4 separate regions of the Homo sapiens genome follow, and all the other regions are reported to be linked to region 1. The links are microRNA targets in miRTarBase. Many come from high-throughput screens and were not tested one by one. Region 1 holds a microRNA gene; each other region holds the end of a gene's coding sequence.
The links. Region 1 holds the annotated microRNA hsa-miR-6780a-5p (UUGGGAGGGAAGACAGCUGGAGA, at 1,778-1,800, shown strand). A microRNA usually pairs through its seed, bases 2 to 8, with sites in the 3' UTR of a target mRNA and lowers its output. Matches are read on the target gene's strand: a 7mer-m8 pairs with bases 2 to 8, a 7mer-A1 pairs with bases 2 to 7 and ends in A, and an 8mer does both.

Region 2: the mRNA of UQCRQ is a reported target of hsa-miR-6780a-5p. Seed matches in the 3' UTR shown: 8mer at 964-971.
Region 3: the mRNA of PAPOLA is a reported target of hsa-miR-6780a-5p. The part of its 3' UTR that is shown has no 7-base or 8-base seed match.
Region 4: miRTarBase lists CAMLG as a target of hsa-miR-6780a-5p. Seed matches in the 3' UTR shown: 8mer at 1,984-1,991 and 8mer at 1,848-1,855.

The regions. Positions count from the first base shown.
Region 1 is chr17:42,706,776-42,709,923 of GRCh38, reverse strand. MIR6780A (microRNA 6780a) reads left to right here and starts at 1,773; the gene lies at 1,773-1,840. EZH1 (enhancer of zeste 1 polycomb repressive complex 2 subunit) reads left to right here. Exons shown (of 21, transcript NM_001991.5): 13 at 1-78; 14 at 1,008-1,048; 15 at 1,841-1,966.
Region 2 is chr5:132,867,271-132,870,410 of GRCh38, forward strand. It overlaps UQCRQ (ubiquinol-cytochrome c reductase complex III subunit VII), which reads left to right. Exons shown (of 3, transcript NM_014402.5): 3 at 218-1,577. The coding sequence ends at 312. Among named protein-coding and RNA genes, the nearest start is that of UQCRQ, 2.2 kb to the left of the region's middle.
Region 3 is chr14:96,564,844-96,567,991 of GRCh38, reverse strand. It overlaps PAPOLA (poly(A) polymerase alpha), which reads right to left. Exons shown (of 22, transcript NM_032632.5): 22 at 876-3,037. The coding sequence ends at 2,942. Among named protein-coding and RNA genes, the nearest start is that of PAPOLA, 64 kb to the right of the region's middle.
Region 4 is chr5:134,750,643-134,753,790 of GRCh38, reverse strand. It overlaps CAMLG (calcium modulating ligand), which reads right to left. Exons shown (of 4, transcript NM_001745.4): 4 at 1,634-3,032. The coding sequence ends at 2,841. Among named protein-coding and RNA genes, the nearest start is that of DDX46, 6.6 kb to the left of the region's middle.

The DNA of each region.
Region 1 (3,148 bases):
AGTCAAAGAATCACTTATCCTGAAGCTGCCAACAGATGAGCTCATGAACCCCTCACAGAAGAAGAAAAGAAAGCACAGGCAAGAAGGGTTGGACAAAGTGTTTTGTTTTACAGCCAGGCTGTTCCCTGTGCTCTGACCTCCCCTTGGAGTTCCCATCTGCCTCCCTCTTTAGCAACCGCACAGGCTGTGTGAGCCCATCAGCTTGGCATCACATGACTGAGAGCCAGCCTCCTGAGTGCTCCCTGAGGGTCTGTGCCTTAGATCAGCCCTCTTCTTGTCCCCCAGTGCTGTGGACCATAACTGTCTGTTTTTCTATTTAAGCTTCTGGCCAATAGGACATGAGCTGGCCTCATGGCTCCACCCTGAAGCCATTTCTCCTTGTTGGTTTTGTTACCACCTTACCCATTTCTCAACTCTGATCAGAGTTTATTTATTTGTTTGGTTTGTGTTGTTTTTCTGAGTTACATGATAGCCTTTACTTAGGTTGGAAGTTTTTAAAAAAATTCTGCACCCTGGCCCTGTTCCCTAGTGACTATCACCTATCAGAGGAAGGAGCTGACACCACTTCTAGATACAGAAGGAAATCCCTGTGGCTCCTCCCTTTCAGTTCTTTCAGAGAAGATTCCTGAAAGGCCTTCCCACCTCCCCATCTTGAAACTCCCCCATATCTCCACCTCCACAAAGACAAAGGGAGAGATTTGGAGAGAAACAATAGCTTTATAATAGACCAATAGGCTTGGGCTTTCTTTTATTTCTGTGTTGTGTTCTTTTATGTTATTTGCTTGTTTGGGAGGGGTTGTGTTTAAGTTTAACTCTTGTAGCACAGGCCAGCTGGATTTAGGATGGACTCTAGCTTCTGTGTACCAAAGTCGTCCTGTTGAGGGGTTTGGGAAGATACTCCCCAGTCATCAAACACAGTCCCTCAGAGCAAGTCACGTTGTCATTTACCTGCATTTGCAGAGCTCCCTAGGGCCGTGACTGAGACCTGTCCTTCCTGTCTTTTTCAGATTGTGGGCTGCACACTGCAGGAAGATTCAGCTGAAGAAAGGTAAGTTCTACCAGGGCATTCTTCAGCAGTTCAGCTGGAGGCCTCACTCTGTGGTCATCACCCTACCCCACCTCCAGCTGCACTTGTTGACCCTGTGCCACTTCCGCAGATTGCAGAATTCTCTGCAGCAACTGAGAACAGCTGAGCCTCTCACTGCAACTGAGAAGACCTCTTAGGAGGTAACATTAAGGGCCTTGTGGTCTGTGATTTTTCTTTTTTTTGAGATGGAGCCTCGCTCTGTCACCCAGGCTGGAGTGCAGTGGCACAATCTTGGCTCACTGCAACCTCCGCCTCCCGGGTTCAAGCAATTCTCCTGCCTCAGCTTCCCAAGTAGCTGGGATTACAGGCATGTACCACCATGCCTGGCTAATTTTTGTATTTTTAGTAGAGACGGGGTTTCACCATGTTGGCCAGGCTGGTCTCGAACTCCTGACCTCAAATGATCCACCTGCCTCGGCCTCGCAAAGTGCTGGGATTACAGGCGTGAGCCACTGTGCCTGGCCAGTATGTGACTTTTCTAGTGTGCCATTTGCTAGGTTCCAGACCTCATTTAATGTTTAGAATAGCTTCCCTGTTGTCCCAGACCATCTCCACACCCTCCCCACAAAGCAGATCACCCCACTGCAGCTTATGAACAACGGTCATCCCTGTCTTCTCACTTCAGGTGCTAAATGTGTGTCCAAGGAGATTGTTAGGACCAGCCTCCTCTGAATCAGGGCAGCTGGACACTTGGGAGGGAAGACAGCTGGAGAGTATGGTCACAGCAGCATCCTCCTCTGTTTTCTTTCCTAGATAACTCTTCCACACAAGTGTACAACTACCAACCCTGCGACCACCCAGACCGCCCCTGTGACAGCACCTGCCCCTGCATCATGACTCAGAATTTCTGTGAGAAGTTCTGCCAGTGCAACCCAGACTGTAAGTGTGCTACGTTTTCTGTATAGTCTACCAAAACAGTTGGCTCCAGTGTGCCCTAGGCTTGCCCCATTCCTGTGCCCTTTACTGCTTATGGCCTTCTGATATCCCCTTTGCTGTGTTTTAGGGATTCTACAAATGAAATAAGTGCATGAGATCTGGGAGAGTCGTTTCTGGAAAACGTTTAGGTTCATGATTCTAAAAGCAGCAATTACACAGAAATCAGATACTTTCCCAACTTTGTCTTCTAGGGGAGAATTAAGAAATGTGGGGGGCAGCAGGCGCAGTCACTCACGCCTGTAATCCCAGCACTTTGGGTAGGCGGATCACTTGAGGTCAGGAGTTCAAGACCAGCGTGGCCAACTTGGCGAAACCTCATCTCTACTAAAAATAAAAAAATTAGGCCAGGTGTGGTGGCTCACGCCTATAATCCCAGCACTTGGAAGGCCAAGTCGGGCAGATCACTTAAGGTCAGGACTCAAGACCAGCCTGGCCAACATGGTGAACCCCGTCTCTACTAAGAATACAAAAATTAGCCAGACATGGTGGTACATGCTTGTAGTCCCAGCTACTTGGGAGGCTGAGGCACAAGAACTGCTTGAACCCAGAGGGCAGAGGCTGCCAGTGAGCCAAGATTGTGCCACTGCACTCCAGCCTGGGCAACAGAGCAAGACTCTGTCTCAAAAAGAAAAGAAATGTGGGACTCTTTTTTTTTTTTTTAAGTTACAGCCCCAGTTTCCCTTTTCTGAATACTGTTTTAAAAAATTTTTTATTCAGATATTTTTTGTTTGTGATTCTGTGTATGTCTATTTTCATTTCATAGCTGGAGTTTTAATATCAGGTAGAAGACAGGGGCCTGGATGTCAGCAGAGACATCCGGGTACTTATCTTTTACTTCTTATCCCACCATGCCCTTCCCAACTCAAAGCTGAGCAGTTTGATGGCAGTCCCCACAGCTTGCAGAACTTGGTGCCCAGGCGGTTTTGCTGGAGGAAATACCTCCTAACCCATAGCAGATAGTGATCTTAGCCGCAGCAGAGAAGTGGTTGCGCTGGGTTGGGCAGTGGGTGGAGAAGGATGGCATAGAACGGATGCATTCTGTTCTCAAAATGATACTTGTTTTGATGGTGACAATTTACCAGTGAAACACACTGATTTCATATTCTCTGGGGTACTCTCCACCTC
Region 2 (3,140 bases), not on the chromosome of region 1:
CAGCATGTTCCTCTGAGGTCACCTTTATTTAGTTCTTACCAGTGGTGAAATGCTTTGTGTTAAACGTGCAGCAGATAGTGATGATAGTTGCATGGCCTTGGATATGCTAAGAACTACTGAAGTGTATGCTTTAAAGAAGACAAGAGGACTGAGACCTTTTTTTTTCTTCTATATGTCTTATATGTGTGCTCTCTGTTTACTCTCTTAATTTTTAAAGAGTTTGTAGTGTTTTATCTTATCTACACATGGGGGACTGAAGAGTTCGAGAGATCCAAGAGGAAGAATCCAGCTGCCTATGAAAATGACAAATGAGCAACGCATCCGGATGACGGTTCCCTGTCTCTGAAAGACCTTTCTCTGGAAGAGGAGTCTGCATTGTAGTGTCTCAAAGACACAATAAACTTCCTATGGTCTGCACTGTTGTGATATTACATTTTTGTGAGTAGAATCCTGTGTGACCACTAATATTCAAGTTCATGAAGCGCCCCTCCTCAGCATGAGTCTTGAAGTTTTGCCTGGTCTCGGGTTTTGGTGAAAGAGCAGGGCTCCCCCTTTGTTCCATTATCTACAAGAAAGTAGCTGCAGGTACTCCTGCATCTAACCATTTGTGGGTGACATGGGCTATGGCGAGTGCTGGTTCTTGGCCCTCTGCTCCCATAGCAACAATAAAGTCTACTAACTATATTGTAATTAGTATGTGTCAGGGACGCTTTTATTTTTTATTTTTTGAGATGGAGTCTTGCTCTCTCACCCAGGCTGGAGTGCAGTGGTGTGATCTCGGCTCACTGCCATCTGTGCCTCCTGGGTTCAAACGATTCTCCTGTCTCAGCCTCCGAGTAGCTGGGATTACAGGTGCAGGACACCACACCTGGCTAATTTTTTGTATTTTTAGTAGAGACAGGTTTCACCATGTTGGCCAGGCTGGTCTGGAACTCCTGACCTCAGATGATCTGTGCGCCTCAGCCTCCCAAAGTGCTGGGATTACAGGCGTAAGCCATGGTGCTCTGGGCCTCAAATACTCTTCTTAGCTACACAAATGAACTGTTAAACCTCACAAGCACCTTTAACGTATCCTCATTTGGCAGATGAGGAAATGGGCACAGAGAGATTAAGTAATTTGCCAGAAATTATACAGCAGTGAATGGTGGAGTCTTGCACTAAAGTGATGCTCTTAAAACTATGCTCTATTGCAGGGGTGTCCAATCTTTTAGCTTCCCTGGGCCACACATAAAATACGCTAACATTACAATAGCTGATAAGCTTTAAAAAATGGCAAAAAAAACCCTCAGCGTTTTAGAAAGTTTACAAATTTTTGTTGGGTCGGATTCAAAGCCATCCTGGGCTGCTTGCTGCCCAGGACTGCGGTTGGACAAGCTTGCTCTACTGCCTTTCCTCCTAAGGCAGGCCTTAGCCTGAGGGGATATCAGCTATAAAACGGATGAGGTGATCTCTTAGCCTCCACAGCAGTTTTCTGTTTCTGTGCCAGGAGGCCAACAATGTTTTCAACCATATGTGGTTCATAAAGCCTCAAAGATTTACTCTGGCCCTTTATGAATAAAGTTTACCCCTGATCTAAAGCCTTTAAATTATCTTTTTGGTATTAAAGATACCATTTTCCCTTCGCCCACCGAGAGATGGTGGGGGTAGGTGTGGTTGGCAGTTTTATGCCTCTAGTTCCTTAGAGAGGCTTCTCTCTAAGCTTCGGGACATGGATCTCACCTGTGGTAGCAGGTATGTGGAATATGATGAGTTGTCATAGCTCAGTCAGTACAGTATATGCTATGGGATCTGAGATCCGTTTTTAGAAACTCTTCTAAGGACTCTTCCTGCTAGCAGCAACTTTGATTCTGGGTCAGACTGTGTTTTTTTTTTTTTTTTTTTGAGATGGGAGTCTTGCTCTGTCACCAGGCTGGAGTTTAGTGGCGCAATCTCAGCTTACTGCAACCTCCGCTTCCCGGGCTCAAGTGATTCTCCTGCCTCAGCCTCCCAAATAGCTGGGACTACAGGCGCATACCAACACACCCAGCTAATTTTTGTATTTTTATTTTTTTTTTTAGTAGAGACGGAGTTTCACCATGTTGGCCAGGATGGTCTTGATCTCTTGACCTCGTGATCCACCTGCCTCGACCTCCCAAAGTGCTGGGATTACAGGTGTGAGCCACCGTGCCTGGCCAGACTGTATCTTTATTATCCTAATTACTGCTATTGCCTTTTAAGAATCAAAAGTTAAGATACTTCAAAACATGGCCGGATACAGTGGCTCACACCTGTAATCCCAGCACTTTGGGAGGCTGAAGTGGATGGATCACTTGAGGTCAGGAGTTTGAGACCAGCCTGGCCAACATGGTGAAACCCTGTCTCTACTAAAAATATAAAAATTAGCTGAGTGTGGTGGCACACGCCTATAATCCCAGCTACTCAGGAGGCTGAGGCAGAAACGCTTGAACCTGGGAGGTGGAGGTTGCAGTGAGCCAAGATTGTGCCACTGCACTCCAGCCTGGGTGACAGAGCGAGACTTCAAAACAAAACCTAAAAGATAAACTACATTGTGAGGCAGGATACGGGGAAAAGGCTGAGTCTTACAGTCTTGGGCTCGTCCTCTTAGCCCGTCACTTCCTCATTATGTGATATAGGCAAGAAACCTACTTTCATGAGCCTTAAGCTTCTCACCCATAAAATAGAAATATTATAAAGTTCTTGGGTTGTGGTGATGGTGAAATGAGTGACAAGTGTCTGGCAAGATGGTACGGGCTTAACACAGGGCAACTAACTGAGGAACTCTTCTACCTCACCCCCAAAAGACAGTCCAATTTTCCCATTTGCCTCTTTGTCCAGATTTATTCCCAGGTCTTGCAACATATTTGGGTCATAGACTTGAGAATGATGAAAACTGTGGACCCATCCTTACCTTGCATAGCTTCAAAGAGTTCACAGCCCAGAGGAGGACCACTGCTTTGAGAGGCCGTTAATGTCTTTCTCCCTCTGGTGTTTGCCCCAACCCGCCGAAGTAGACGGCCACCCTCTCCCATCTTGCTCACCTTGTTCTACACTTAGACTATTTCTCCCTGGTTCTTTGACTCCTTTGGAGAGACCAGCTCAAAAGATCCAAATCCCTTTTCTCAGCCCAAACCAGGCACCAA
Region 3 (3,148 bases), not on the chromosome of region 1:
TGGATGATAAAACTCAGAAACTGTGATATACAAACTGCATCTAGATGACTATCAAAGTAGAGGAAGTACAGCCAGTTCAATTCTTTTAGTGTTAACAAGGGAGATAAGGGTAATTCCTACAATATTTTCCCTTTTACTGAACAGTCTCAGAAGTTAAATTTTGCTTTTACTAAAAAGTTATCCCACAATGCAGCCACATTCCCATTTTCATATATAGGGAAGGTTACATTAGAATTTTAGAAATGATATATGAACAACTGCATGTCCCTCAGAATAATGGCTTTGACACAAAGAGTCCATCCCTCCACCCAAAACACAAGATAACCATACCCAAGAGCTGACCATCACAAAATACACAGAGCAGCTCGCTCCTGCACCATGAGTTAAGTATCAATGCTGAGCATCTGGGGGGTTAAGAAAAGCAATATCTGATTTGCATTTAGTAAAATAAGAAACATAGAATCCTGTTGGTTGTGGTCTGTAATTCTAAATTCACTGAAAAACAACAGTGCCACCTGCTGACATTAAAGTGCTAAATGCTTTGAAAAGGACAGTACACTGTCCACAGGCATAGAATAAATATACAGATAACGTATGGTGTCTACAGACACAGAACACTTTAGAGGACGGAAGAGCTAAAATTGAATTAATAGTAACTATATTAATGTTTTCCTCCCTAAAGATCAATTATATGAAAAACAAACACCTAATTATTATCTGAGCTATAAATACAAGGCTGCTGCCAATGGCTGAAGTTAACCAGAAACAAATCTTTTCTAATGTAACCAAATTCTTTTGCAAATCCTCACTTAGAATCATACTATAAACTTATGATTACTGGAAAAAAGTAGTAGTCAAAAGAAATCAGGCAACTGTGAGATTGTGCTGTTTTTTTTTTATTGTGTTTTCAATGGAGAAATACATCATCTGTTTACAAAATAGCTCTTGAAAAATACAAGGAGTACAGATACTATAAAACAAAGCAAACTCCAGTCATGAGACACTACATACATCATGCGAAAGCAACAGTCTGATCTCCAGGTTATGAAAACTATAATTAAAAAGTCACTACACAGAAAAGGTCCAAGTTTCCAGCTTGGCAAAACTTGGGTGCAGTTACATGAAACGTTTAATAAACTGAATTGTTTTCCCCAATGTGTAAACAAAATGACAAGACTAAATCTGTGCCTGGTAATTTCAATCTAACTCTGAAGCTACACAAAACACACAGACACCTTGTACATTTCACCTGTTAGTATGACCATCTTTTTTCTTCGGTGGTGGAAGGAAGGGCAAGGTGACTGTGTAAAGCAAAGATGTGGGAAGTAGAAATATTGTTTACTAGACATTATAAAGTCATGGTGAAAAGAAAGCTTCGATTAATGCATAGCCTAAGGGGGAAAAGACTACACTCCAACTTCAGAAAATTAATTTAGAAGGATAGGGGAAGAGATTAAGTAATTGCAGTTTAACATGAAAAATGCACATGTGATAGAATGGAGCACAATGGAGGATTCATAAAACATGCTCATCAGAAAAATCTGTTAAGTCGACTTTGTCCAGATTCAGAAAGAGTAAGTTTATCAACATCTGGCATCCCTCATACTTTGTGAAGATAGATCTTCTACTGCTTAATTATGAGAAATTATTTTATTCAAAGAAAGGAGCTCTTAATCTTTTGATAAAACAAAATAAAGGAGTAGAGAGCTGACTAGATGTCAAGTGCTTGCTAGAAATGATTTTTAAAATGCTTCTACACGTAAAATGTACTGACAAATTTTGGTAAACCATTTAAAAATAAGAATTAGTTTTAAAATCTTGGAGAAAATGCCTTTTTGCCCACATTTAAAACTGAAAATCAATTTTACTATAGATAGGAGTTCTGTGGAGTGTACAAAATTCCTTTTAGAGATCAAATGGCCATCCCAGATAGATATCATGTTTCACAGGCATTACTTTTAGTCACCCTCAAGTTTCAGCCATGGGACCAAAATTTAGTGTTCTGTGCCATGTGGTCACAGGGTCATTGGTTTCACATCATGGCTTAAGAAAATACTGGCATTTTGTTTCTTACGAAGTAAGTCCTACCTTGTGCATACAAGCAAAAAGAAAAAGGAAGAAAACAGGGGAGGGAAAGGCGCAAGAAGCTTTTTTTGTTTGTTTGTTTTGAAGACAACAGATTGAAGGCAAAAGAACACAGAGCTTTCACAAGCTCAAAGAAAAATATTTGCTGGCTGATCGCTGATTTGTATGCACTATAAAACAATTCCATAAATAAAACCAATATATCATTTCTTAATCATGACCCTATCAAAACCAAGTTATTTCCTAACTATTCTTTCAATGTCAAATGTACCCTAGAGTTGACGTTTCATTTTTAAGGGTTACAGCTACCTCATAGGAACTGAACTAGATGTACTCTTACCCTTTCTCTGAAGTATAACAGTACACCACTGCACAACAGTATCCAATTTGAAGACTAATGGTAAAGAAAATTCTTCAGGAAAAACTGAAAATCCATCAAGCTGAAAATCTAAAATTAGTTCTACTTTCTAATGAAAAATACATAAAAGTGCATCATCAGAATAAGTAATTCTTATGCCAGTTTGTATTGCAAATTTTCCAAACAATGCATCAAACATAAACCCAATCCAGATGTCAATTATGAATACAAATATAGCTTGAGGTTGTTTTTTTTAAAGGCAGTAATTTTTGAAATAGTTAATGCAACTGTTGCTAACACAATAATAATAGTACTCCTGGCTTCACATACTAACCTGGACTTCCGATCAAGTGCTGATTAGCCCAGTAAGGGAGGTCACCAAAAAACCCAAATCCATTTCAGTCATGTCTAGTCTTGTACCCTCCATTCTCCTTTTTTAGCATTTGAAGACAACAGGTTGAGTTGGCAGATATTGTTTATGGACCCCTGAGGTTGTTTTTACCGATTCAATCTCAGTTTTATTGAATTCTTGATAACAGGAATAGGATTTGCAGGGAGAGCAGGGATATCAGAAAGGTCTGTACTGGATGTTTTCTGAGAATGAAAGCAAAGAACACAACATTGTTCAAAGCACCATAATTTAACAATGAGATGTATTTTCCATTGCTTTACTTCCTAAGAAACCTTCTAAGAAGAAAAGTATTA
Region 4 (3,148 bases), not on the chromosome of region 1:
TGCAGTGGCTCACACTTTTTTTTTTTTTTGAGACAGAGACTTGCTCTGTCGCCCAGGCTGGAGTGCAGTGGCACGATCTTGGCTCACTGCAAGCTCCGCCTCCCAGGTTCATGCCATTCTCCTGCCTCAGCCTCCCGAGTAGCTGGGACTACAGGTGCCTGCCACCATGCCTGGCTAATTTTTTGTATTTTTAGTAGAGACGGGGTTTCACCGTGTTAGCCAGGATGGTCTCGATCTCCTGACCTCATGATCTGCCCGCCTCGGCTTCCCAAAGTGCTGGAATTACAGGCGTGAGCCACCACGCCCGGCCTCACACTTTTAATCTCAGCAAATTGGGAGGCTGAGACAGGCAGATCACTTGAGGTCAGGAGTTTGAGACCTGCCTGGCCAACATGGTGAAACCGCCATCTCTACTAAAAATACAAAAATTAGCCAGGCATGGTGGCAATGCCTGTAATCCCAGCTACTCACTACTCAGGAGGCTGAGGCGTGAGCACTGCTTGAACCTGAGAGGCAGAGGTTGTACATCATGCCACTGCACTCCAGCCTGGGCAACAGAGTGAAACTGTCAAACAAAACACAACAAAACAGGCCGGGCGCAGTGGCTTACACCTGTAATCCCAGCACTTTGGGAGGCCGAGGCAGGTGGATCACCTGAGCTTTGGAGTTCCAGACCAGCCTGACCAACATGGAGAAACCCCGTCTCTACTAAAAATACAAAATTAGCTGGGCGTGGTAGTGCATGCCTATAAACTCAGCTACTCGGGAGGCTGAGGCAGGAGAATTGCTTGAACCCCAGAGGCAGAGGCTACAGTGAGCCGAGATTGTGCCATTGCACTCCAGCCTGGGCAACAAGAACGAAACTCTGTCTCAGAAAAAAAAAAAACAACACAAACAAACAAAAAAAACTTTCATTTCTACTTGATATTATTCAACAAATCAAGCAAATGATCAGGGAGATGCCTATCAGTTAAAGACAAAAAATGGCACCAATAGATACAGATATCTTATAACTGTCTTCAAAATATAAATTTGATAATGATCTACAATTACTAAAATTTTGCATGTGTCAGCTGGCTAAATGATTTTTTTTTTTTAAGAAAGAAAAGTAGGCCAGGCACAATGGCTCATACCTGTAATCCTAGCATTTTGGGAGGCCAAGGCAGGAGGACTGCTTGAGCCCAGTTTGAGACCAGCCTGGGTAACATGGTAAGATCCTGTCTCTACAAAAAATCAAAAAATTAGCCAGGCATTAATGGTCCCAGTTACTTGGGAGGCTGAGACAGGAGGATTGCTTGAGCCCAGGAGGTCAATCAAGGCTCCAGTGAGCCATGATTGTGCTACCACTACACTCCAGCCTGGACAACAGTGGTAAACACTGTTTGGAAAAAAAAAAAAGCACCAAAAGAGTAAACATGTGCAATGTGCAATTGAAGACCACTAGTATCTTCTCAGCGATTAAGGAAGTGACAACTTTAAGGATGATTTACAACCCTTTAGATACTAGATTCATTATGGAATCAGGAAAAATGTGTGCTTATAATCTTTCACCCAAATCAGAAGAATAGACTTAAATTATTCTTCATTACCCTGGTTCAAAATGAAATGACAGAAATCAAGACTTAAAGAGTAATTTTTTAAAAAGTGTATGTGTTTTTAATGTCACAAGGATTAACCAAATTAGACTATACAAAAATCTGTAAGGAAATGTAACACCAAGTGACATTAACACTTTAGTCTTATATTCTTTTAAGAAGACAACCCAACAAAATATGGCAGTTACTGAGTTAGTTAAAAGGATATTTATAAGGCCAGGTGCAGTGGCTCACGCCTGTAATCCCAGCACTTTGGGAGGCCGAGGTGGGCAGATCACCTGAGGTCAGAAGTTCGAGACCAGCCTGACCAACATGGAGAAACCCTGTCTTTACTAAAGAATATAAAAATTAGCTGGGCGTGGTGGTGCATGCCTGTAATCCCAGCTACTTGGGAGGCTGAGGCAGGAGAATCCCTTGAACCAGGAAGGTGGAGGTTGCGGTGAGCCGAGATGGCGCCATTGCACTCTAGCCTGGGCAACAAGAGCGAAACTCTGTCTCAAAAAAATAAAAACAATGTTTATAATAACTCATCTAGACCATATTTGGGGGGAAAAAGGACATTTATGCTATTGGGTTGCATGCCTCAATTCTTCACATCCCATTTTGTTTTTGCTTGCTTAAAACATACTTCTAAAAAGTGAAACTCAAATGTAAAAAGTTCCAATTCTGAGTTTGGTATACAGCAATAAAAATTTTATAAATACCTTCCAATTTCACATGTATGAATCTTTTCTTTGATTAAATACTTGTGCTGGAGTAAAAATTAAGATACTAACTCAACAAGAAAAGTTACAATGTGCAGAGTTAACATTAGACAATTCAGTTTCTTTCATTTTATTTTTCAGATGACTTCATTTCTCAGGACAGAATGACACAAACACAAGAAGCAGTCTCTAGGGCTGGCTGAGACCACATTTATCTGTTCTCCTAAAAGCACTAGCTCAGCTCCCAAAAGAAGAATTACAAATCTGAGAAGTTAGAGGAAAGGTACAGAATAGGAATTCTGATTAACAAGAAAAATCAATTAATGACATTGGTACTCTATTCTTCATATCAGTAATAATACAAACTCAGCCCTTTTAAATCAGAGAATCTGCCATTCTATATCTAATAAAGTAGCTTTACAACCCCTAAAGTAAAAGAATTACATGAAGGTGTAAACCAATTTGCCTCCTTTAGAGACACTGCAATATAGAAGAGGATTTTTTTTTTTTTGTAAGCTTCTCCTTCTCAGTTCTACAGGCTTCATGGTACTTCAGAGCCCCAATAATCAAGCAGTTCATGACAAAAGATAAAAGTGAAAAAGTAGACACAGAGATCTGTGAAGACTTCGCCCATTTTGCTATAGGTATCCATTGATCGATTTATCACTTCGGCAGGAATTCCCGACAATAGAAGTGCAGCTGTTAGTACTGTTGTCTTTATCTTCTTTTCACTCTGTGTAGAGAAAGACTCAAATTAATCTTCAAAGTTTCAGCAGGCTACATTAAGCTCTATACAAACATGATCAGTACTGCTGTTTTTAACCGAAATGATTTAAAAACTGTTAATGA